3 separate regions of the Homo sapiens genome follow, and regions 1 and 2 are each linked to region 3. The links come from fine-mapping of genetic effects on gene expression. A gene starts in region 3. Each other region holds a variant in brackets. All regions are shown on one strand. Distances are from middle to middle.

Evidence for each region. PIP is the estimated chance that this variant, and not a neighbour inherited with it, causes the effect.
Region 1: its variant is the best candidate, but not a certain one, in a credible set for the expression of SH3PXD2B in hippocampus (GTEx, PIP 0.85).
Region 2: its variant is the best candidate, but not a certain one, in a credible set for the expression of SH3PXD2B in whole blood (INTERVAL, PIP 0.50).

The regions. Positions count from the first base shown.
Region 1 is chr5:173,017,387-173,025,560 of GRCh38, reverse strand. It overlaps ATP6V0E1 (ATPase H+ transporting V0 subunit e1), which reads right to left. Exons shown (of 4, transcript NM_003945.4): 3 at 5,194-5,323. The coding sequence ends at 5,230. SNORA74B (small nucleolar RNA, H/ACA box 74B) reads right to left here and starts at 4,835; the gene lies at 4,632-4,835. RefSeq lists a silencer at 5,041-5,335 and an enhancer at 7,567-8,110. The variant C/T (reference allele first, on the strand shown) is at 3,730.
Region 2 is chr5:172,408,769-172,416,947 of GRCh38, reverse strand. The region is part of intron 2 of SH3PXD2B (SH3 and PX domains 2B); the gene reads left to right. Among named protein-coding and RNA genes, the nearest start is that of SH3PXD2B, 42 kb to the left of the region's middle. RefSeq lists an enhancer at 3,746-4,247. The variant G/A (reference allele first, on the strand shown) is at 4,223.
Region 3 is chr5:172,451,323-172,459,501 of GRCh38, reverse strand. It overlaps SH3PXD2B (SH3 and PX domains 2B), which reads left to right and starts at 4,977. Exons shown (of 13, transcript NM_001017995.3): 1 at 4,977-5,224. The coding sequence starts at 5,150. RefSeq lists an enhancer at 5,490-6,011.

The DNA.
Region 1 (8,174 bases), 570 kb before region 3:
CCAGCCTGGGTGACAGAGACCATGTCTCCAAAAAAAAAAAAAAAAAAAAAAAAAAAGTATTTTATATACATTGTAGAATAATAAAAGTTACTGTTATTAAGGAACAGTAATTTTCAGGCCAGGCATGGTGGCTCATACCTGTAATCCGAGCACTTTGGTAGGCCGAGACAGGCAGATCACTTGAGGTCAGGAGTTCGAGACCAGCCTGGCCAACATGGCGAAACCCTATCTCTACTAAAAACACAAAAATTAGCTGGGTGTGGTGGTGTGTGCCTATAGTCCCAGCTACTCAGGAGGTTTAGGCAGAATTACCTGAACCTGGGAGGTGGAGGTTTCAGTGAGCCAAGATACTGCCACTGCACTCCAGCCTTGGCAACAGAGCAGGACTCTGTCTTTAAAAAAAAAAAAAAAAAAAAAGAATGCCAGGCACAGTGGCTCACACCTGTAATCCTAGCACTTTGGGAGGCTGAGGTGGGTGGATCACGAGGTCAAGAGTTCGAGACCAGCCTGACCAACATGGTGAAACCCCGTCTCTACTAAAAACACAAAAATTAGCCAGGCGTGGTGGCGCACACCTGTAATCCCAGCTACTTGGGAGGCTGAGGCAGGAGAATCGCTTGAACCCAGGAGGCAGAGGTTGCAGTGAGCCCAGATCACGCCACCGCACTCCAGCCTGGCGTCAGAGCGAGATTCTGTCTCAAAAAAAAAAAAAAAGAAAAAAGAAAAAAATAAAATAAAATAAAAACTCTGTAATGTTATATTTGAAGAGAAAATACTAATGTAAACTTAAGATTATTTTTCATCTGAAAAATACATTACTTCCTGGTTCTTTCCATTGAAAAGGCTTAGAAGCAATTATGCTTAATTACCCCAGGCAGCAACAAACGCACCTAGCACTCCGATCGTGATTCTTAAATGCCATTTCCACTGAACAGAACCAGAGTCAAATGGGCCTGAGAACTGTTAGTAAACCAGACATCCTTTTAGTGGGGAATTCAGAAACCAATTCAAAGAACAGCTAAATCTAAGTCTCGGACAGAAAATATAGAAGAGGGGCCTGGACATTTTGATGTTGCCAGAAAGTAAGGAAACTACCAAAAACTAACACCAAAAGTACATAGAAGCCATCCTAAACAGGTTCTCACAGACAAAAAACAACAACAACAAAAAACAACAACAACAAAACACAACCATATAAAGGGTAAAAAATATAATTATTTAAAATTTAAAAAAAATCTCATTGAATACCCTGGAACTTGGCCACCAACATCTTACTATGAAAATTAAAAGAATTAAACCTGTATTCTGCTTTTCCCGTATTTTTGTATGATCTGTATTTCTTTCTTTTTTTTTTTTTTTTTTTGAGACGGAGTCTTGCTCTGTCGCCCAGGCTGGAATGCAGTGGCGCAATCTCCGCTCACTGCAAGCTCCACCTCCTGGGTTCATGCCATTCTCCTACCTCAGCTTCCCAAGTCGCTGGGACTACAGGCGCCCACCACCATGCCTGGCTAATTTTTTTTGTATTGTTAGCAGAGAAGGGGTTTCACCGTGTTAGCCATGATGGTCTCGATCTCCTGACCTCATGACCCACTCGCCTTGCCTCCCAAAGTGCTGGGATTAGAGGGGTGAGCCACCGTGCCCGGCCCCATGATCTATATTTCAAGTCTATTAGATCATCCTGTTGATGAGGAAAAGTTTTTTGTTTGTTTGTTTTTTGAGACAGAGTCTTGCTTTGTCACCCAGGCTGGAGTGCAGTGGTGCGATCTTGGCTCACTACAACTTCCACCTCCCAGGCTCAAGTTCTCCTCCCACCTCAACCTCCTGAATAGCTGGAACTACAGGTGTGCACCACCTTGCCTGGCTAATTTTTGTATTTTTTGTAGAGACAAGGTTTCACAATATTGCCCAAGCTGGTCTCGAACTCCTGGGCTCAAGTGATCTGCCTGCCTCAGCATCCCAAAGTAGTGGGATTACAGGCATGAGCCACTGTGCCTGGCAGGAAAGTTATCTTTATAGAAGCATTTCAGCTCATCAAATGCAGAGGTAATAATACAATTGAAAAATCAGACGGGAATGGTGGCTTACGCCTATAATCCCAGTATTTTGGGAGGCCTAGGCGGGTGGATCACCTGAGGTCAGGAGTTTGAGACCAGCCTGGCCAACATGGTGAAAACCCATCTCTACTAAAAGTAACCAAAAATTGGCTGGGTGTGGTAGCACACACCTGTAGTCCCAGCTACTTGGGAGCCTGAGGCAGAAGAATCACTTGAATTCAGGAGGCAGAGGTTGCAGTGAGTTGAGATCGTGCCACTGCACTCTAGACTGGGTGATAGAGCAAGACTCTGTCTCAAAATGAATAAATAAATAAATAAATAAAAATAGAACTGGAAAAATCATCATTTGCGGCCAGGCACGGTGGCTGATGGCCATAATCACAACACTCTGGAAGGCCAAAGTGGGAGGATCACTTGAGCCCAGGAGTTTGAGACCAACTTAGGCAAGATGGTGAGACCTCATTTCCACAAAACAAAACAAAAGTCACACGTGGTGCTGCGTGCCTGCAGCTGTTAGGGAGGCTAAGACAGGTCGATCTCGGGAGCCCAGGAATTCAAGGCAGCAGTGAGCTATGATCACACCACTGCACTCCAGCCTGGGCCATAGAAAGAGACCCTCTCTCTCTATAAAAAATAAATAAAATTTTAAAAATTAGCCAAAACATGGACCACATAGTAAGACCTTGTCTCTATTCAAAATTTAAAAATTAGCCAGGCACGGTGGTGTGTGCCTGTAGTCCCAGCTACTCAGGAGGCTGAGGCAGGAGGATCACTTGAGCCAGGAGTGTGAGGCTGCAGTAAGCCATGATGGTGCCACTGCATTCCAGCTGGGTGACAGAGACTCTCTTTCAAAAACAAAAAAGTTAGGGTATGGTGGCTCATGACTGTAATTCCAGCTACTTGGGAGGCTGGGGCAGGAGGATTGCTTAATCCCAGGAGGTCAAGACTGCAGTTAGCCGTGATTGTGCAACTGTACTCCAGCCTAGGTGACAAGAATGAGATTCTGTCTCAATTAAAAACAAAAACAAAAACAAAAAACAGCAGCAGCAGCAAATCACCATTTGCCATTTCAACTAAAATGATTAATTCAGGCTATGATCATCAATGGATAAAATCACTTGATAAAAAGGACTTTACAAATGAAGGAACCAGGCTGTCATTACCTGAACCCAGTGATCACATCAGCCTTACTAAACATAGGAGAGCCAGAGCCAGACATCCTGTTTCTCCAGATGGGAGGCAATACACAGTTTACAGTAACACCTAAAGAGCCAAAAAACTTGAACCTAAATCTAGTCAAGGCATTTAAAGCTAACTTCCATTTAACAAAATAATGAAAACAACGAACAGATTAAATAAGAGGTTTCCTGACTCTCGGCCAGTGAATAAATCTTTCCACTATACCACTACTAACCTCTCTGACCCTCAGGACAAATAGAAGCTGCAACCTTAAGACTGATTTTCCTTTTTCTGAGACGGAGTCTTGCTCTGTCGCCCAGGCTGGAGTGCAGTGGCGCGATCTCGCCTCACTGCAAGCTCTGCCTCCTGGGTTCAAGCCATTCTCCTGCCTCAGCCTCCCGAGTAGCTGGGACTACATGCGCCCACCACTGTGCCCAGCTAATTTTTTGTATTTTTAGTAGAGATGGGTTTCACCGTGGTCTCGATCTCGTGACCT[C/T]GTGATCCACCTGCCTCAGCCTCCCAAAGTGCTGGGATTACAGGCGTGAGCCACCGCGCACGACCAAAGACTGATTTTCAAAAGGCACTGATATGGCTTGGATTATATGTCCCCTCCAAATCTCATGTTGAAATGTGATCCCCAATGATGGAGGTGGGGCCTGGTGGGAGGTGTTTGGGTCATGGGGGTGGATTCCTCATGAATGGCTTGGTACCCTCCTGATATGGTTTGGCTGTGTCCCCACCCAAATCTCATCTTGAATTGTAGCTTCCATAATTTCCACGTGTTGTGGGAGGGACCTGGTGGGAGATAACTGAATCATGGGGGCAGTTCCCCCATACTGTTCTCATGGTAGTGAATAAGTCTCACGAGATCTGATGGTTTTATAAGGGGAGACCCCTTTTGCTTGGTTCTGATTCTCTCTTGCTGCTACCATGTAAGAACTGCCTTTCATCCTCCGCCATTATTGTGAGGCCTCCCCAGCCACGAGGAACTGTGAGTCCATTAAACCTCTCTTTCTTTATAAATTACCCAGTCTTGGGTATGTCTTTATCAGCAGCGTGAAAATGGGCTAATATACCTCCCCATAGTAACGAGTGAAGTAGTTGTTAGTGCACACAAGAGCTGCTTGTTTAAAGGAGCCTGGCACCTCCTTCTCTCTCTCTTGCTCCCTCTCTGGCCATATGACACGGCTGCCCCCCTTTTGCTTTCTGCCATAAGTAAAAACCTCCTGAGGCCTCACCAGAAGCCAAACAGATACGGGTGTCATGTTTATACAGCCTGCAGAACTGCGAGCCAAATATAAATTACCCAGTCTCATGTATTCCTTTATAGCAACACAAAACAAACGGACGCAGGCACCTTTCTCCATCCAAAGCATTCAAAAACCTTAATTTTGTTTTCTCTGTCTGCTCCCAGACTAGAACTAAGCAGCCAAAGTGAATGCTTAGCACACTCTCGGGGAAGCACAGCTCTGTCTTGCACCAGTGCCAGACGCCACCAGAACAGTGGCGCAGGCAACCGGATGAAGACAAGACATTCCTCTCCCAGCAGTGTAACACCATCACAGGAACGGTTCTGTCCGGATGGCTGACTACTGCTGGAAAGAAACCTGCTCAATTTTAAATCTGCCAGCCACTTTTTAAAGTTGCTGGATCTCACAATGCCAAGTATAAACAGTTACTTTTTTGATCTGCGTCTGAAAGAGTGCATGCAAGCTTAATTTTGTAAATTAAACTGTATTTATTTAAAAAGGCAGGGTGATAGCAGAATCTAAAAAGAATCTTAATGAGATTTAGGTAAGCTAAGGCTTAAGTTCCAATTTTATTTCTGCTCTTCAGATCGTGTTTGCATTCAGCAGCTTGCCCTTGCCACGTGTTAAAATGGCCATAAAATGTGAGAAAAAGTCAAGGCAAACTCTGACTGCCTGACCATACTGATAAGAAAGGTCACAAGCATAGTCACCTCAAAGACTGAGCACTGTAGAGCATGTCTTCTTCCTCAAGGCCAATGATACTTCAGATACCAGATGGTTTCATTTTTCAATTGCGGTCCAAAGAGAGGGTTGAGTTGGGCCAGAATTGCAATCAGCCAACTAAAAGAAGGATGGGAGAGAAACAACGAAGCGGTGAAATCATGTTGGAACATGACCATTTTCAATTAGCATGGAAAAAGTACACTAGCAAAACTTAAATCTACTGCATTCACACCAAACTTTCCATATACATTGTGTTAACAGCAGCATGTCTGATAACAAAATGTTTCCCAGGACGTAGCCTGCCTTCATCTTGAGACATATCACAAAGCAGTGAGGCTTTGTCACAGTAAGTCTCTGACTTTTCTCTCATTACCTGATTATCTTTCCAAGTATCCAAGATTTCCTGAATTCATGATATCTTCGCTTCAAAGCGTTTTCACTTAATCTCAATTTATCATCATCACAACTTCCAACCTCAGGGAAAATGTGTCTTATTTTATCCATTCTCCAAATGTTAAGACCCACAACCTACATGACACACCCATTTTTACTGGTACAGGCAAGGTTTGATTGTAGCTTATCATCTTCCTATTAGACTATAACATGTAAGGTCCCCTTTTCTAATCCCCATCACCACCAAAATATGTAACACATCCTACTGTGGAACTTAACAGAATGGGCATTTACCTTCTCCCCAGTTTACTTCAGAATCTAAATAATGAGGTATTCCTCTGTATTACAGACTAAACTATAAAGGAAGTAAAATGGTGTCACATCTTACTTCAGGGTTTTTTTTTTTTTGAGATGGAGTCTCGCTCTTTCGCCCAGTCCAGACTGCAGTGGTGCAATCTCGGCTTGCTGCAAGCTCCGCCTCCCGAGTTCACCCATTCTCCTGCCTCAGCCTCCCGAGTAGCTGGGACTACAGGCGCCCGCCACCACGCCCAGCTCATTTTTTGTATTTTTAGTAGAGATGGGTTTTCACCGTGTTAGCCAGGATGGTCTCCATCTCCTGACCTCGTGATGTGCCCGCCTCGGCCTCCCAAAGTGCTGGGATTACAGACGTGAGCCACCTCGCCCAGCCGACTTCAGGGTTAAAAGTGAAAAACAGGTTGGGTGCGGTGGCTCATGCCTATAATCCCGCACTTTGGGAGGATAAGGATCACTCGAAGCCAGGAGTTGATGACCAGTCTGGGCAACACAGTGAGAACCCGTCTCTATAAAAAAATTTTAAAAATTCACTGTGTTTGCTGACTTGCACTTGTAGCCACAGCTACCCAGGAGGCTGAGGTGGGAGCATCCCTTGAGCCTGGGAGTTCAAGGCTGCAGTGCTATAGTTACATCACTGCACTCCAGCCTGGGCAACAGAGTGAGACCCTGTCTCTAAAAAAAGAAAAGAAAAATAGCATAGATTTATCTTTAAAATTTTCTTATATAGCTCACAAAGTTCTGTATAAAGGGTCTTATATATGATACGGTAATTCATATGCCAAATAAAGTTTTGAGAATCACTTAGCTCAGACAAAAGCAAACAACAAAAAAATATGCAAATGTCTGAGTATTCAAACCATTCTTCACTTACTAAAGAAATATTTAATGAGCACCTACTAAGTTCTAGGCCTCAGAAATACAATGGCGAAAAATGAAATGTCACTATCCTCACAGAGCTTACATAATAGAATGTCAGGTGATAACTGTTATGAAGGAAGTCAAGCAAGGAGAAGGAATAGAGAGTGGCTTGACGGGGCATTATTTCGACAGGGTGGTCAGGGAAGGAGGAAGACAGACAGGGGAATGAAGCAGAATACACACTGCCTTTAGTTCCTACTCAAAATCCAGCTGACCATTGAACATGGGTTTGAACCATGCAGGTCGACTTGGATGCCTGGGCCTGCTCATATGCCTGCCTGTCCTGCCTCCACCTCCCTTTCCACCTCCTCCACCTCTTCTGCCTCTACCACACCTGAGACAGCAGGACCAAGCCCTCTTCTTCCTCCTCCTCAGCCTACTCAGTGTGAAGACAACAAGGATGAAGACCTTTATGCTCATCCACTTCCACTTAATATAATAGTAAACATATTTTCTCTTCCTTATGATTTTCTTAACATTTTCTTTTCTCTACCTTCCTTTATTATAGGAACACGGGATATAATACGTATACAAATTATGTGTTAATTGACTGTTTATGTTATTGGTAAAGCTCCTGATCAACAGTAGGCTATTAGTAATTAAATCTGGGGGGATTCAAAAGTTATAAATGGATTTTCAACTGTGCAGGGGATCGGAACCTCTAACTTCCACGTTATTCAAAGGTCAACTGTGTATGAATTTGAATTTCTTTCATTGGTGGGCAGTGGTGTGGGGAGGAGGGCAGGGTTAAGGTAAACAAGCCCAACCAACCTCCAACTACCAATCTGGGAGAGTGAAATTTGGTAACATACTGCTATCCTTTCTGCATGGTACATTGGGATCTAGGGAATCCCTTTCTTTTCTTTTCTTTTTTTTTTTTTTTTTTTTGAGAAGGAGTCTCGTTCTGTTGTCCAGGCTGGAGTGCAGTGGCACGATCTCAGCTCACCACAACCTCCACTTCCTGGGTTCAAGCAATTCTCCTGCTTCAGCCTCCTGAGTAGCTGGAATTACAGGCACGCGCCACCATCCCCAGCTAATTTTTGTATTTTTAGTAGAGAAGAGGTTTCACTATGTTGGCCAGGCTGGTGTCGAACTCCTGACCTTGTGATCCGCCCACCTTGGCCTCCCAAAGTGCTGGGATTACAGGCGTGAGCCACTGCAGCCGGCCAGGAATCGCTTTTTTTTTTTTTTTTTTAGACGAAGTCTCACTCTCGTCACCCAGGCTGGAGTGCGATGGCACGATCTCGGCTCACTGCAACCTCTGCCTCCCGGGTTCAAGCGATTCTCCCGCCTCAGCCTCCCGAGTAGTTGGGATTACAGGCGCCTGCCACCACACTCGGCT
Region 2 (8,179 bases), 43 kb after region 3:
CACTTAAGCCCAGAAATTCAAGACCAGTCTGGCCAACAAAACAAGATCCCATCTCTACAAAAAATTTAGAAATTAGCCAGGTGTGACGGTGCGCACCTGTAGCCCAGGCTACTTGGGAGGCTGAGGTGGGAGGATCCCTTGAGCCTAGCAGGTCGAGGCTGCAGTGAGCTGAGATTGTGCCACTGCACTCTAGCCTAGGCAACAGAGCAAGACCCTATATCAAAAAAAAAAAAAAAAAAAAAAAAAAAAAAGAGAGAGAGAGAGAGAGACTCACAGTCTCTATGAAAAGGTCCTTTTTAAAAAAAAAAAAAAAAAAAGTAGAGGCCGGGCGCAGTGGCTCACGCCTGTAATCCCAGCACTTTGGGAGGCCGAGGTGGGCGGATCACAAGGTCAGGAGTTCGATACCAGCCTGGCCAAGATAGTGAAACCCCGTCTCTACTAAAAATACAAAAACTAGCTGGGCGTGGTTGTGGGCACCTGTAATCCCAGCTACTCAGGAGGCTGAGGCAGGAGAATCATTTGAACCCGGGAGGCAGAGGTTACAGTAAGCCAAGATCGTGCACTGCACTCCAGCTTAGGCAACAAGAGCGAAACTCCGTCTCAAAAAAAAAAAAAAGTAGAGACAGGGTCTCACTTTGTCACTCAGGCTGGAGTGCAGTGGCGCCATCACAGCTCACTTGCAGCCCCAAACTCCTAGGTTCAAGTGATCCTCCCACCTTAGCCTCCCGAGTAGCTGAGACTACAGGTGTGTGCCACCACGCCTGACTAATTTTTTAAATTTTTGTAGAGACGGAGTCTTGCTTTGTTGCCCCGACTGGTCTCAAACTCCTGGACTCAAGTCACCCACCCACCTCGGCCTCCCAAAGTGCTGGGATTACAGGCCTGAGCCACCGCGCCCGGCTGGAAGTTCCCCTTTATGAAGATTCACCTTCCAACTTGGTTTCCTGACTTGCTTACCTTAGAAGGGCCTGATAGTGATGCCTGATGCTCTTACTTGACATCTGACCACACGTCTCATTCACCTGAGGGTGCAGGAAATGGGATAGAGCCCTGGGCTTGAAATAAGAATACCTGGTGTCGGGTCCTTCCCTCTGTCTTACCAGCTGTGCGGCCTTGGGATGGTCACCCAGCCTCTCTGATTCTCCCTTTCTGCCCTGGCTTGGGACTACTCTGGGGAGTCCATCAGTGTGGCAAAGGAAATTGGCATCCAGGCAGAGCACTGGGGATGACTGGAGTGCCCAGAGAGCTGAGGGTAGTGCCTAGCAGAAATGTGGCTGGGTTGAGCCACATAGTAACAATATCGGCAGTCACTAACTGGAATGTGCCAGATGCCCATCTTATATGCCATCTCATTCTGTCCTCACAGGCATGAGGTCAGTATTGTATCCATTTCACAGATGGGGAAACTGAAGCTCAGAAAGACAGAGTCACATGCCCAGAAAGCAGCATGGCTGGGATTCAAGCCCAGGTGTGGCTGGATCTGAAACTTGCACTCCTAACCTCCCTGCCTCCTTGGGCCCCGGGATTGCCTTTCAATCTGCCTATTGAAAGATAGATTTACCCACATAGAGTCCTGCCTATGGCTGCCCCTTTTTAAGGCCCATTTGGCTCCTCCCTCTAAGATACAGGCAGAGTCTATCCACAGAGGGCAGTTCTGACCAAAACATGAGCCCCTCTACACTGTACCGTGCAACCTTTGTCTTCTGAGTTCCCACTGGTTCATTGTGTCCCCCAGGCCAAGGGTCATGGTCATCACTGGAGCCAGGGCTTCCCTCACAGAAGGCGCAGTTAAACATTTGCTAACCTAGACCTCGAGCTGCCACAAGGGACCCAGATGGATCTCTGCTTTCCATAAGCTTCCAGTGTAGTGGGAATAGGCACATGTTCTTTCAGATAGAGAGAAATCCAGGTGTTCACAGAGGGACCTCCCTCCTAGCCAGGGAGCTCAGACAGGGCTCACTTGCTGGAGGAGGTGACATCTGAGCAGGGTCTTGACAATGAATAAGGAGTGGCCCCTCCACCGAATGGGGGAGGGCATTGCATGCAGAGGACACCTCATGTGCAAAGGTGCAGAGGTGCAATGGAGCAGGAGTCTTAGCTGGGCATCTTCCAGAATTCCAACATTGGCAGGGGGGCACAGAACCAGCTGAGTCACTCTGCCCGTGAAGGAGCCCTCGGGAGAAATGCCAGCCTCATCTGTAAGAAGGAACACTCCCTACGGGGAAGTTCATGCTGCAGAGATCCAGAGAAGCTTTTCTGGCTCCTCTCCTGCTCCGCACGCTGTGCCAGAGCGTTGCTGCTAGGCTCAGGGGCTTACGGCTCGAGCAGTTCTTGGACGCCTCAAATCACAGGTGGAGGCTGCATCTCCATCTATGCCTTTGTCTCTCCAGAGACTGTCCCAAGTCATGCAGCAAAAACCGCTTGTTTCCAGTTTCCATTGAGCTAGGACTGACCCATCCCCTTCTTTTTTTTTTTTTTTTTTTTTTTTTTTAAGATGGAGTCTCGCTCTGGAGTGCAGTGGCGCGATCTCGGCTCACGGCCACCTCCGCTTCCCGGGTTCAAACGATTCCCCCACCTCAGCCTCCGGAGTAGCTGGGATTACAGGCACGCGCTACCATGCCCGGCTAATTTTTGTATTTTTAGTAGAGATGGGGTTTTGCCGTGTTGGTCAGGCCAGTATTGAACTCCTGGCCTCAAGCAATCCACCCGCCTCAGCCTCCCAAAGTGCTGGGATTACAGGCGTGAGCCACTGCGCCCGGCCTTGACCTGTCTCCTTCTAAGACCCTGGTCCTTCCACCTCGGCCCTCTTGGGAGTTTAACAGCCCCAAGTGTACTTTTTAAGACTATCTGCCCATAAGCCCCCATGCTCCACTGCAGAGGCCAAAGGGAAGGGAGGGTTTTCTTCCAGCTTTTCTGAGGACAGGTCTAGGGGATGGCAGAACTGAAGAGTTTTCACTCCCTAGGCAGGCATTGCCTGGCCGGGAAGCCTTCCCAGCAAGATCCCAGCCAACATCTGGCCCAAGACTCCACCAACCATATTTATCCAAATACTGCCTTTACTCCATCCTCAGACACACTTTTTCTCCCAGACATTATCTTCTGGAATTGGAGTATGCCTCCAACGTGTTGTGCATACTTAAATGGAATAGTTTTCCCTTCCCACTAAAAGCTATTACCATATGGAAGGTGTGTCACTGGGAAAATACCGTAGTTGCCTTTTTCCACACAGTTAGCAATTCTTTATTTCTAAAATAGAAAGAGGCATGATTATCTTGGGCAGTTGCAGCTAAACTCAGGTCCAGGCCCTGTTGCTGCCACCTGGTATGTAATTTTTCCTTTCCCAGAGAGTGGCTGACCAAACCAGTTAACCACTTTTTCTCATTTGTTTTTTCATTCATTCATTCATTCATTTACTCATTTGTTCTTTGCACAAATATCTAACAGGTGCTTACCGTGTACCAGTGAGGAGGTAGTGGGGCAGAAGAGAGGGCCAACAGTAGTAAGGGGGTTGAACTGAGAAAATACAGGCCTGGACTTAGGGGGAGCAGTAAGTATGGAGAGAAGCGGACAGACCGGAGGTGGTGGCAGCCTCCGTGCAGCACGTCCATCAGGACACCAGACACATTGATATTTAGACCAGCTCGTGGAGGGGCCAGAATCCTCAAAGACAACAAACCACAGATGGTAGACTAGGCCCAGGGACACCGTTGTGTTCAGGGCCCTGAAAGCCCTGCCCCAGGACCTTGTGGCTTTCTGCCAGCCTGCAGCTGCGCATGATGGCCCCAGGCCTTTCTCCACTTCCTGCTCCGGCTCCGCTGGGACTTGGGGGTTTTGTGATATTGAGGGGGTAAACCCCTCCCAAGTCCAGCCTCAATGGCTGCTGCTAACGCAAACCACGTGTGGTGGCCAGCTTCCATGGCGTGTTCTTTGGACAGCGTGTCTCGCATTCCCTCTACCGCAAGCTGATGTCTTGAAAACTGCTGATGGAGTGTTCTCTCTTTCTTCTTGGAAGCCTGTGATGTGGCAACTTGATGTGACTCCTTCTCCCTTCCTACTCCCCAAATGACTCATCTTCCTCTTCAGTTTCCAGTCCTCCTCACCCTGAGCGCCACTTCTTTTGTTATCTGGGGGGAGCGCGGGTAGTGGGTTTTCTCATTACCAAGGATGACATGGGTTAGGCTTTGAGGAGCATGCCTCTGCTCCTGCTGCTGCAGACAGCCTG[G/A]GCCTGGTCCCTTGGAGAACCTACTTCAAGGCCTTTGGATGCCTAGTGTTACAGTTCTCTGCATAGATGCAATTGGTGGCCGTAAACCTGGACACACCAAGACCAGCTCGGCAAGGAAAGCTTGCAGGGCTCTAATCCCCCAGCATCTTATCCTGAGTCCTAGTCTTTGCAACTAGCAAACTCACAGATGGCCGTTGACATTGGACACAGTGATGAAGAAAACGAAATAAAATTGGATGTGGTTTAAATAGGAGGATATTGTGATAGTCCAGCCCTGCACTGTCCGGGATGGCAGCTGCTCGTCACATGAGGGTATTTAAATGTAAATTCAAGTCAATTAAAGAAAATTTTTAAATTGAGCTCCTGAGTTGCAGGAGCAGCATTTCACCTGCTCAATAGCTACCAGGAGGCTAGTGGCCACTGGATTGGACAGCAAGATGTAGAACACCTCCATGATGGCAGAAAGTGCCAGCAGACAGCCCTGCTACAGCCACGGGGCCACCCGGGCAGTCCTGAGGGGTTTTTTGCCAACCTTAAAACACAGCCTCACAATCAAATATTATTCAGCCTTAAAAAAGAAGGAAATTCTGCCACATGCTATAAAATGGATGGAGCTTGAGGACCTTATGCTAAGTGAAATATGCCAGTCCCAAAAGGGCAAGTACTGTGTCATCCACTTATTGGAGGTAGCTACAGCAGTCAGATTCATAGAGGCAGAAAGCAGAGTAGTGGTTGCCAGGGCCCAGGGGGAGGGAGAGGGGGGAGTCACAGTTTCAGTTTTGGATGATGAAGAGGTTCCAGAGATGGATGGTGGTGATGTTTACACAACATTGTGAATGTGCTGAATGCCACTGAACTGTACACCCAAGTGTGGTTGAAATGGTAAATCTTCTCTTGTGTATATTTAACACGATTAAAAAAAAAAAACCACACAGCCTTACAGACTACTAAAAGTTATCCCCAAATAACTTTCAAAATAACATATTCAATATGGGCAGAGTGTAAGGAGCGGGGATTTCTTGCTGAGCATCTGGTGTGCTCCCCAGAGTTTCCACATAGCACTCATTTACCCAGCCCCGCCGCGGAGCAGGCTGCGTCCCTCATCCTGCAGACGGCCAAACAGGCTCAGGGATGAAGTGTCTGGCCAAAGACACACAGCTGGCATGAGGAAGCATCAGGATTGAACCCCAGGGCTGTTGGGTCCCCAGCAGTCATGTCTGTGGTTAGACTATGCAGTATTTAAACCCAGATCTGCCACCTCCAACAAATAAAACAAAGGGAGGCCTTTCAGCTCCTTGGGCCATGCTGATCTGGGTAAAATCAAGTCAGGACAAAGGGCAAGAGAGCAGCTTCTTAAGACCAGGCAGTAGAGACCCCTCTGAGGACTGAAAAACACAGCAGTGGCAGGGACTCATTGGCTGACATGTACATTCAGGCAGGGACTCCAAAGGAACCCGGAGATTGGAAATAGTCATGTTAGGGTGGACAGATTACTGGTGCATTCTTTAAAAAAAAAAAAGTTCCCTTTAATGGTGTTTCATTGTCTTAACAAATAAAATTGAGAAGGGAAAAAGTAGATAGTGTTAGGCAAAAACCTATAAATCTCTAACATACTCCACAGCTGAGACTGATTAATGGCTCTGCTTTCGAAAAGAAAGCATGCTGTTCACATGTGCACAGAATATTAAACTTACCTCATCTCAGGCTGACTTTTGTGTTCACGTGACACTCTGAAGCTGCCTCAAAGAGTGGTCTTAGGCAAAAAGAATGGAATTTAGACAAAGATGCATGGACTGGCTGGACACACCACTTAGCTGTGTGACTTCAGGCAAGTTCACTGCCCTCTCTGCTTCTCAGTTACCTCATCTGTGACAAGGGGAATGTAACATTTATGTCACAGAGTTACTGTCAAGGTCACATGAAATCGTATATGAGAGGACATGTTCACTGTGAACTGTTATATACGTGTTAGTTGTGATTACTAATTATTATTTAGTATTAGTAATGTGAATATTATTCCTCAGAGTTACTTAGCAAACATCTCCTGAAGTTGCCTCCCAAAGCGTTTGCTCAGTTGCGTTCATTGGTTCAGCCAATTTTTTTTTAATCAGTAAACTTTAGTTTTTAGAGAAGTTTTAGGTTCTCAGAAAAATTGACTGGAAAGTACAGAGCATAGCCCCTTGTCCTCGCCACTCACAACCTCTCTTCATCGACATCAAGTTCAGCCCGTTTTTATTGAGCATCTACTATGTGCTGGCATTGAAGAGCTCTTGGATTCACAAAAAGAAGGCTGCCTTTTCCAGCAAGTCCCCACTGTGGCCTCACCTGTCTCTGAATGACAGTGGACCAAGCATTTCCACCTCACCAGGCAACAGAACAGGGGACAATGACTCAAAACCACAAATAAAACCACATGTTTAAAATACTGGCAAGGATGTAGAGAAAAGGGAACTCTTACACACAGTTGGTGGGAACGTAAACTAGTATAGCCACCATGGGAAACAATGTAGAGGTTCCTCAAAACACTGCAAAGAGAACTTCCATATGATTCAGCAATCCCACCACTAGGCATTTATCCAAAGGAAAGGAAATCAGTATATCTAAGAGATAATACATCCCATGTTGATTGCAGCTCTAGTCACAGCAGCCAAGGTGTGGAATCAGCCTAAGTACCCATCAGCAGATGAATGGATAAAGAAATTGTGGTATGGGCCGGGCACAGTGGCTCATGCCTGTAATCCCAGCACTTTGGGAGGCCGGGGCAGGTGGATCACCTGAGGTCAGGAGTTCAAGACTAGCCTGACCAAGATGGTGAAACCCCGTCTGTACTAAAAATACAAAAATTAGCCAGGTGTGGTGACCCATGCCTGTAATCTCAGCTACCGGGGAGGCTGAGGCAGGAGAATCGCTTGAACCCAGGAGGCGGAGGCTGCAGTGAGCCAAGATCGTGCCATTGCACTCCAGCCTGGGCAACAAGAGCGAAATTCTGTCTCAAAATAAAGAAAAGAAAAGAAAAAGAAAAAGAAAATGTGGTATGCATACACAATTGAATACTATTCAGCCATCAAAAATAAGGAAATCCTGTCATTTGCAGCAACATAGATGCCACTGGAGGACATTATGTTAAGTGAAATAAGCCAGGAACATAAAGTTCTCACTTACATGTGGAAGCTAAAAAAGTTGATCTCATAAAGTGAAAAGTAGCACAGAGGATAACTAGAGGCTGGGGAGGGTAGGGGGAAGTGGGGAGATAGGGAGAGATTTGTAAAAGGAAACAAAATCACAGCTAAATAGGAGGAATAAGTTCTAGTGTTTTGAGTGTTTTTGGTTTTGTTTTTGTTTTGAGACAGAGTTTTGCTCTTGTTGTCCAGGCTGTAGTGCAATGGCGCGGTCTCGGCTCGCTGCAACCTCCACCTCCCAGGTTCAAGCAATTCTCCTGCCTCAGTCTCCCTAGTAGCTGGGATTACAGGTGCCCGCCACCACGCCCAGCTAATTTTTTTGTATTTTTAGTGGAGAGGGGGTTTCACTGTTAGTCAGGCTGGTCTCGATCTCCTGACCTCAGGCCATCCACCCACCTCGGCCTCTCAGAGTGCTGGGGTTACAGGTGTGAGCCACCGCGCCTGGCCAGTTCTAGTGTTTTATAGTACTGTGGGATGACTATAGTTAACAATAGCGTATTATATAGTTTCAGATAGCTGGAAAGAAAACATTGAATATTTCTAACACAAATAAATGATACATGTTTGAGATGATGAATGTGTAAATATGCTGATCTGATCACTACATATTATGTGAATCAACATTACTAATGTACCCCATGAATATATACAATTATTATGTGTCAATTAAAAATTAAATTTTAGAAATTTAAAAATTAAAATAAACTAGAAAGTGAAAACCCAGGCCAGGCGTGGTGGCTCATGTCTGTAATCCCAGCAGTTTGAGAGGCCGAGGCAG
Region 3 (8,179 bases):
ATATTTACCTCCTTTTCCACCTTCTACACTCCACACCTCAATCAGGGGAAGTGTCAGTGCTCCCAGAACAGTGTGAAACAGGGAAATGGCGTGAAGAGGTCTGGGGAATGGGCAGGGGCAACAGCAAGCCTGGCCCTGGAGGTTCAATTAATGTCCCTGAGGACTTAGGTTAGAGTTCATGAGATAGAGATGAGTTCATTCAGCCCACAGCATCTCTTTGGGGCCTCTCTTTGCTAATTCTGTGCCAAAGGTGGGAAACTTGAGACAAATAAGGCCATTCCGGCTCCTTGGGAGCTTGGAGTCTGGCAAAGGAGTTGGATATTAAGAAAACAATCACAGCCCAGAATGACAGCTGGGACAAGGCACAGTGGCAGCTGGGTGGGGGGGAGACAATTACCCATCTGGGAGTCAGGGCTTCCTACAGGAAGTGATATTAGTGACATTCAGTATGGACTTTGAAGGCTGAATGAGAGTTCACCAGCAGACAAGGTGGGGAAATGAGCAGCTTATGCCAAGGCATGTCGGTGATGTTACCGGAAAAGGTCTCGATTAAAACCTCAAGAGAGGGTTCTTGGACCTCATGCAAGAAATAATTTGGGGCAAGTCCATAGAATAAAGTGAAAGCAAGTTGATTAAGATAGTAAAGGAATAAAGAATGGCTACCCCATAGGCAGAGCCCTGGCATGGGATGCTCGAGTCTAAGTATATTTATGGTTATTTCTTGATCACGTGCTAAACAAGGGGTGGATTATTCACGAGTTTTCTAAGAAAGGGGCAGGGATTTCTGGAACGAAGGGTCCCTCCTCTTTTTAGACTATATAGAGTCTAAAAGGAATCCTTGTCCAAACCTAAGGGAGAACTCGAATGGAAGAGAAATCCCACTTGGAATCCTATTTGAATTCCAAGTGGGATTTCTCTTCCATTCGAGTTCTCCCTTAGGTTTGGGCTCCCTGATGAACTCGAATTTGCAGAAGTGTTTTGTGTTTGTGACAAGGAACTAGTCCAGTTCCAGTGAATTGTAGTGACCATCTGGGTTGAGATTTTTATCAGCAGATAATCTGCAGTTCTCCCAAGCAGAGCCTAAATGGATCTTTCCAGTCTGAACAGCCAGCCTAAACTGCATCACCAGCCCACAATTCAGTTCTCCAAAAACTATGGTGGACACTCAGAAAAGCCCAAGTTGTCTAGGAGGTAAATGGGTGATATAGAAAGGTAAGAAGAAAAAAACCAATAACACAATTTTAAAATGCACAAAGGACTTGAATAGACACTTCTCCAAAGAAGATAAACAAATGGCCAACAAGCACATGAAAAGATGCTGAACATCACTCATCATTAGAGGAATGCAAATCGAAACCACAATGAGATTCCATTTCACATCCATTAGAATGGTTATTATCAAAAACAAATGAACGAATAAAGAAATAAAAACAGGCCAGACACAGTGGCTCATGCCTGTAATCCCAGCACTTTGGGAGGCCAATGCAGGAAGATCACTTGAGGCCAGAAGTCCAAAACCAGACTGGTCAACATAGTGAGATTCTGTCTCTACAAAAGGAAAATTTTAAAAATAGCCAGATGTGCTGGTGGGTGCCTATAGTCCCAGCTACCAGGGAGGCGGAGGCAGAGGATCCCTTGAGCCCAGGAGATCAAGGCTGCAGTAAGCCATGATCAAAATCACTGCACTCCAGCCTGGGTGACAGGATGAGACCCTGTCTCTTAAAAAACAAAACAAGGCCGGGGGCGGTGGCTCATGCCTGTAATCCCAGCACTTTGGGAGGTTGAGGGGGGTGGATCACCTGAGGTCAGGAGTTTGAGACCAGCCTGACCAATAGGGTGAAACCCCATCTCTACTAAAAATACAAAAATTAGCCAGGCATGGCGGGCGCCTATAGTCCCAGCTACTCGGGAGGCTGAGACAGGAGAACTGCTTGAACCCAGGAGGCAGGGGTTACAGTGAGCTGAGATTGCGTCACTGCACTCCAGCCTGGGAGACAGAGCAAGACTCTTTCTCAAACAAAACAAAACAAAACAAAACAAACAAACAAAACAGATAATAACAAGTGTTGGCAAGGATGTAGAGAAATTGGAACCTTTGTGCATTGCTGAGGGAATGCGAAATGCCACAGCCCCTGTGGAAGACAGTTTAGGGGCTCCTCAAAAAAAAATTAAACATAGAAGTATCACATGATCCAGCAATTCCATTTCTTGGTATATGCACAAAAGAATTGAAACCAGGGACTTGAACAGATATTTTTATACCAATGTTCACAGCAGCATTATTCAGAATAGCCAAAAGATGAAAACAACCCAAGTGACTGTTGACAGATGAATGGATAAAGAAAAAGTGCTATATACATATAATGGAATATTATTCAGCCATAAAAAGGAAATTCTGACACATGCTACAACATGGATGAGCTTTGAGGACATTATGCCGAGTGAAATAAGCCAGACACAAAAAGACAAACATTGTGTGTTTCCACTCATATGAAGTACCTAGCATAGTCAAACTCATAGAGATGGAAAGTAGAACAATGGTTGCCAAGGCCTGGAGGAGGTTGGGGGGCAGTGGGGGGGGACTCAGTGTTTAATAGGGACAGAGCTCCAGTTTAGGAAGATGAGAAAGTTCTGGAGAGGGATGGTGGTGACAGTTGCACAACAATGTGAGTGTACTTAATGCCACTCAACTGTATGCTTTAAACATGGTTGAAATGTTAAATTTTATGTTATGTATTTTTTACTACAATAAAAAAGTAAAACAAAGGAAAGATACGTAAAGATGCAGGGATAGCATCTTCTGCTACTGGTGGTTGTGGGGGGACCTTTGTCTTCCCCAGACAGAGGAGACGGACACAGCCAGCAGGACCCACCTCTGCCACCCATGGTGTGGCTGGGGGCAGGTCTCTCTGCCTCTCCGGAAAAACCCAGGAAGCTGGCTGATTCAGAGAGGGCCTCTAGCTTCTGCCTTCTTAGGAAGGCTTGGCTCCTAATAAGGCAATGCACGATGTGGCAGGGACGGAAAAGCAGACCTTCACTTCTTTGGACATTTCCAATGAGGCCTCAGGACCCTCTGGCTTGGGACTGTACTTCAGAAGAATGTGCCTTACAGGAATTACATGAGTGAGGGTCCTGGCACCGAACAGATGCCACCCTCAAGCTGGGTCCATGAAGACAGTTTAGTAAAGGGTCAATGTATACGGGTGTGGGCGGGGCTAAGGAAGCACCGAGGATGGCGTAGTACCCAGGGCTTGCAACAGCAAGACTGTCACTGTCCTGAGCAGAAAAGTGGCTTCAGGAACCCTGAGAGAGACCATGTGAGAAAGGGCACCTTTGGTAAAAACAATCGGGGAGGAGGGGCTTAGGGATTAAATACCCAGACCTCCCTCTCTCCTCTTGCCCTCAATCTCCTGCCAGGCCCTTCCACTGGCCAAGCCAAACAGGAAGACCAGGACAGAGAGCTGTCAGTGAAATCCACACAGGCCAGCCTCTGGGGCTGGAGCAGGATGGTAAAGTCTGGCAAGGAAGTCAGAGGAGCAAATGGAGGGGCGGATCCAAAGTGAATCAGCCCAAATCATCCACGTGGCCTGGCCGAGGCTGAGAGCCGTCCTACCCTGGATAAGCCCACCCTTTTCCAAAGGCTGATCCTGGACCGGGGTGGGAAGTAGCTCTGTCGTGGCATGGAGAAGAGTCGTACGGTTTGTTGAAAAGAGCCCCCACTTACTGGCTGTGAAAACACTGGCCAGGAGCCTAAACCTCCCATCCATGCATTATATATTCATTTATCCATTCATTCAGCCAACATCTCCTGAAAGTGACTCAGTGCCCAGCCAGTGCTAGGAGGCACTAGATGAAGAAACGAGGAGCTGCCCCAGCCACGGCAGCTTCAACGTGTGAGATCCACCTAGAGCCAGGCAGTGACGGGCTCCATCCACCGGCTCCCTGACTCTGGACCTTCACTGATGTAATTCCTGTAAGGCACATTCTTCTGAAGTACAGTTCCCAAGTCAGAGGGTCCTCAGGCCTCATTGGAAATGTCCAAATGTCTGGAGGCCGTCCTCTGTAAAAACACCTTTTCCTCCTAGAGTCTGCCTGAGGATGCAAAGACAGCATTTGTGAAAAGCAGGGGCCACGGGGCCCAGCGAGCAGTTAAGTGCTCCGCAACTGGAAATCGATGGCCTTGCTAACAAGCACCCAGCTGCCCCTCACACATAGTCACCACCCTTTTATCCCCTTTTGTTGCTTCCATGGCAATTACATTGCACGTATGCGCATTTGTTGCAGTTTTTCTCTCCCTCACTCCCCATGTCCCAGACTGAGGCTGGGGGAACCTGGTCACGGGTCTCTTGCTCCTCCTGAATCACCAGGGCTTGGGGTGGCTTTAGGAACGCCAGCACTCATACCATGGACTGCACTGCGGAATGGCTTCACATGCACTTAATCCCGGGCGCAGCACCGGCAGGCAGGCGGTACTACTGACACGTGCTACAACATGGATGAGCCTTGAGGACATTATGCCGAGTGAAATAAGCCAGACACAAAAAGACAAACATGGTGCTTGTACTACTAGGCTCATATTATAGACGAAGAGACCCAACCCAGAGAGGTTAAGCAACTTGCCGAGGGCACAGAGTGGAAAAGCGGCAAAGCCGGGATTCGAACCCGGGTGTCCGGCTCTCCAAACTGGCGGTGGATGGCGGCTGCCGGAGCGAGAGTGCTGGAATGAATCGATACGTCAATCAGTGAACGGGCGACGGGGTCAGTCCAGTCCCCTCCCCCGGCGCGGCGGCTCAGCACCGGGACAAAGGCCGGGCGGGGGCCGGACGTGGCCGGCGGGGTTCGCGCGCGGTGGGCGGGGGTCGGGGCCGGGCCCTTTAAGGGGGGCGGGCCGGCGGCGCGGGGGGCGGTGCGGGGGGCGGTGCGGGGGGCGGTGCGGGGGGCGGGCCGGGGGCGGGCGGCGGCGGCTGGGCCCGGCTGGAGTGCGCGCCGAGCGAAGGGCGGCGGCGGTGGCGGCGGCGGCTCGTGCTCGGCCCCGGCTGCGATTGCGCTCAGCTCCAGGTTCCCTGCCCGCGGCGGCGCGCCCCCAGCGCTCCCTGCACCCCGCGCCACCCGCACCCGCGCTCGGCCCGCTGCGGGCGGAGGAGCGGCCATGCCGCCGCGGCGCAGCATCGTGGAGGTGAAGGTGCTAGACGTGCAGAAGCGGCGGGTGCCCAACAAGCATTATGTGAGTGCGGCGCGGCCCCCACGCCCCCTTGAGCCCGCGCCCCGTCGGGGGCGACCGAGGGCCCCCGGCTTGGAAAACTTCTGCCTCCAGCGCTTCCCGTCCCCTCCTCCCCTGCTCTCCCCTCGGCTCTGCGGCGGCGCTGCCCGGGTCCCTCCCGACTCCTCCTCCCTCCCTCCCCTCCCCTCCCCGCTTTTGCCTCGTTCTCCCCCTCCATCCCTTCCTCCCGCCTCGCCCCCCTACTCGCCTCCCTGCGGCTCCTCTACCCCTTTCTGTCTTCTCCGTGTCCCCCCAACTCCCGTCCTGCTCATCTGTGGAAAAGTCTGGCTCCAGCCGGTGAGGGGTCTGAGACAGAAAGCGGGAGAGACAGAAGTGCCTGTTCTCAGGCCGCCCGCCTTGCCCCTCCTTGTCCAGAGGCGCGCAGACCCGCAGTCCCCAGCCACAGGTAGCCCCTCTAGGGTTCGCCGAATTTGACTCCGTTCTTTGGCAAGAGCCGGCCTGGGCGATGGAGGAGATCTCTGGGAATGGATCATTTGAGTGGCTACGCCTTTAAAGGGTTAAAAACATCCCCTGCCCCCTCTCTCCAGTAACTTCTGTTTTAAAATGTACGAAAGTTTTCTCCTGGCATCTCCCTCTGGAACATGGGAATCTTGTTTGGAGCTGGCAAGGACTTGAGAAAATGGGACAGTAGCGTCGTTTTGCAGATAGGAAGGCTGAGGCTCAGAGGTTGCAGGTCCTGGAACATAGAGCTGCATTCGGGCTTCCCTCCCTCCAGCAGGGGTGCCTGGGGCTGACGGTGACCTGCAGGTGGAAAGTGGCTTCCGCAGCAACCTAGGGGACACGTCTGCAGATTCAGGAGGCCCTGGGACCACCTCGCAGGTTCTAGGTGGAGATAAAGGGGATGTGGGGTGATGGGCCCACATGAGGCCTTGGGGAGGGCCTCATTACAGCAGGGAAGGGGGCTATAGTGTCTCTGGCGGTGAGAAGTGGGCAGTGGCGGAGCCTGGCTGCAGAGAAGTTAACCAGGAAGGGAAAAAGAGTAAGAGGGAGGGAAAAAATCCTAACAAAGAAGTATAGAACAATGAATAGAAAAGGGCGTTGGCTGGCTAAATTAAGCTCCTTGGCCTCCCTGGAAGTCGTCTTCAGATCTTTTTTTTTTAAGAACTAATTCTTACAAAGTAGATCTGCATGCCTTCCGTGAATAGCCTGTGAAATTCTGAAAGGAGATAGCCGGGAACCCACTCCGCGCTCTCCACAAGAAAGGGTGTGCTGTGTGAGTCTGTATTGTTATTGGCTGGGCAGCCAGTTATTCAGCCCTTAGCCAGGCGGTGGGAAGCTATTTCCTGGACCTGTGGCATCTTTATATAGAGTGAAGTTTCCCTTGATTCCAGAGCTGAGCTAAATTGTCTTTTTTTTTTCCTTCCTTTTTTTATTTTTTGTTAACTGTTTTCAAATGCTGCCAAATCTTAGTTTCTTGTTTGAGCCTGTTAGCGTGTAAGTGAGTTTGCCTCTTTGGCATGAAGACAGTTTTCACCAACATGGCAACTGGAGGAAGTCTGGAATTCTCCATGCCACCTCCCACCAGGTCTGTGAGCTGGCAAAAACGAGAATAGATACTGCCACCGAGGCCCGGCCATCATCGTCCACGCGCCCTCTTCTGGCCTCTCCTATCACGCCCATATCAGGCAGAGGGCCTTAAGCCCATTTGACAGATGAGGAAACCAGGGCTCAGCAAAGTGAGGTCCCACGCCTAAGGTCACAGTCAAGAGCCAAGCAGGGATGTAGATCCAGGCCCGCTGGACCCCAAAAGGACCACACCACTTCCCACATCCGGTACCCCTATAGTTTCTCTGAGCAAAGTCCTCTGAAAAACTGGGAAATCTCTCTTATCATTAGTGAAAACCTGGAAGCTTTTCATTCTCTGCTGTGTCAGCTCCATCCTTGCCAGTTTTTTGAAGGTTTTGCGCTTTGAGAACCGTCTTTTGAAGCTTTCAGCCACTTTTTGGGGGCCCCCTGAGACAAGTTTCTATGTTAAAACATAGATTGGGATTCAGATCTTGGCCTCCCAGGTTGTAGCTGTGTCACCTCAGCCTCAGTTTTTTCATCTGTGTAATGGGGATGGTGGTGTCCATTTCCTAGAGGTAGCAGCCGCATGACAGGCTGCCTTAGGGCATTCCTAAATGCCCTAAAGGCATAGCTCCCTGCCTGCCTGTCCTGAGGTATCTTGTCACTGATTGGGAACATGCCAAAGTCACATGGTAGGGGGATTCATCAAGAACTTGTTTTTCTGCATGTGGCTTTAGTCACTCATGTGATTCAAGAGGCCCTCTCCCTTCTAGCCCAGGCTTCTGGGTTCATCAGATGAGGAGGGGCAATGGGCTGAACTGAAGCCTGAGTCATCCACAGGAACAGAGAACATTTACTGCCTTGATGGCAGGGGGGCCAAACCCAATGGAAACAGATCCCTGTGGTGGGCGACCGCTGCTGTTCCCAAGCTCCACCCCAACCCCTCACACAATCTGGAAAGAGCGGGCATGAAGGCAGCTATTGGCAGGCCTGGACTTTGACTCCCATTTGGTATCCCTTTTTCTGAAGCCACCCTGGAGAGACAGCATCAGCTGGGGAGTTGAACTTTTCTGCTGTGTGACCTCGGACTGGTTGGTTTGCCTCTCTGAGCTCTAGCTTCTGTGTAAATACTGCTACATCCCTCAAGGGCAGAGTTTCTCAAACTCAACACTTTTGACATTTGGGGCTGGATCATTCTTTGTTTCAGGGCTGTCCTGTGGATTGCAGGATGTTTAGCAGCTTCCCTGGCTTCTACCCAGCTAGTTATCCCCCTTCCCAATTGTGACACCCAAAAGGCCTCCAGGCATTGATTGCTGCATGTCCTCTAGGGGGCAGCACCACACACATTCCCACCCCAGCCACTGCGCCATAGACTATAAAGTCAGTTTTTGA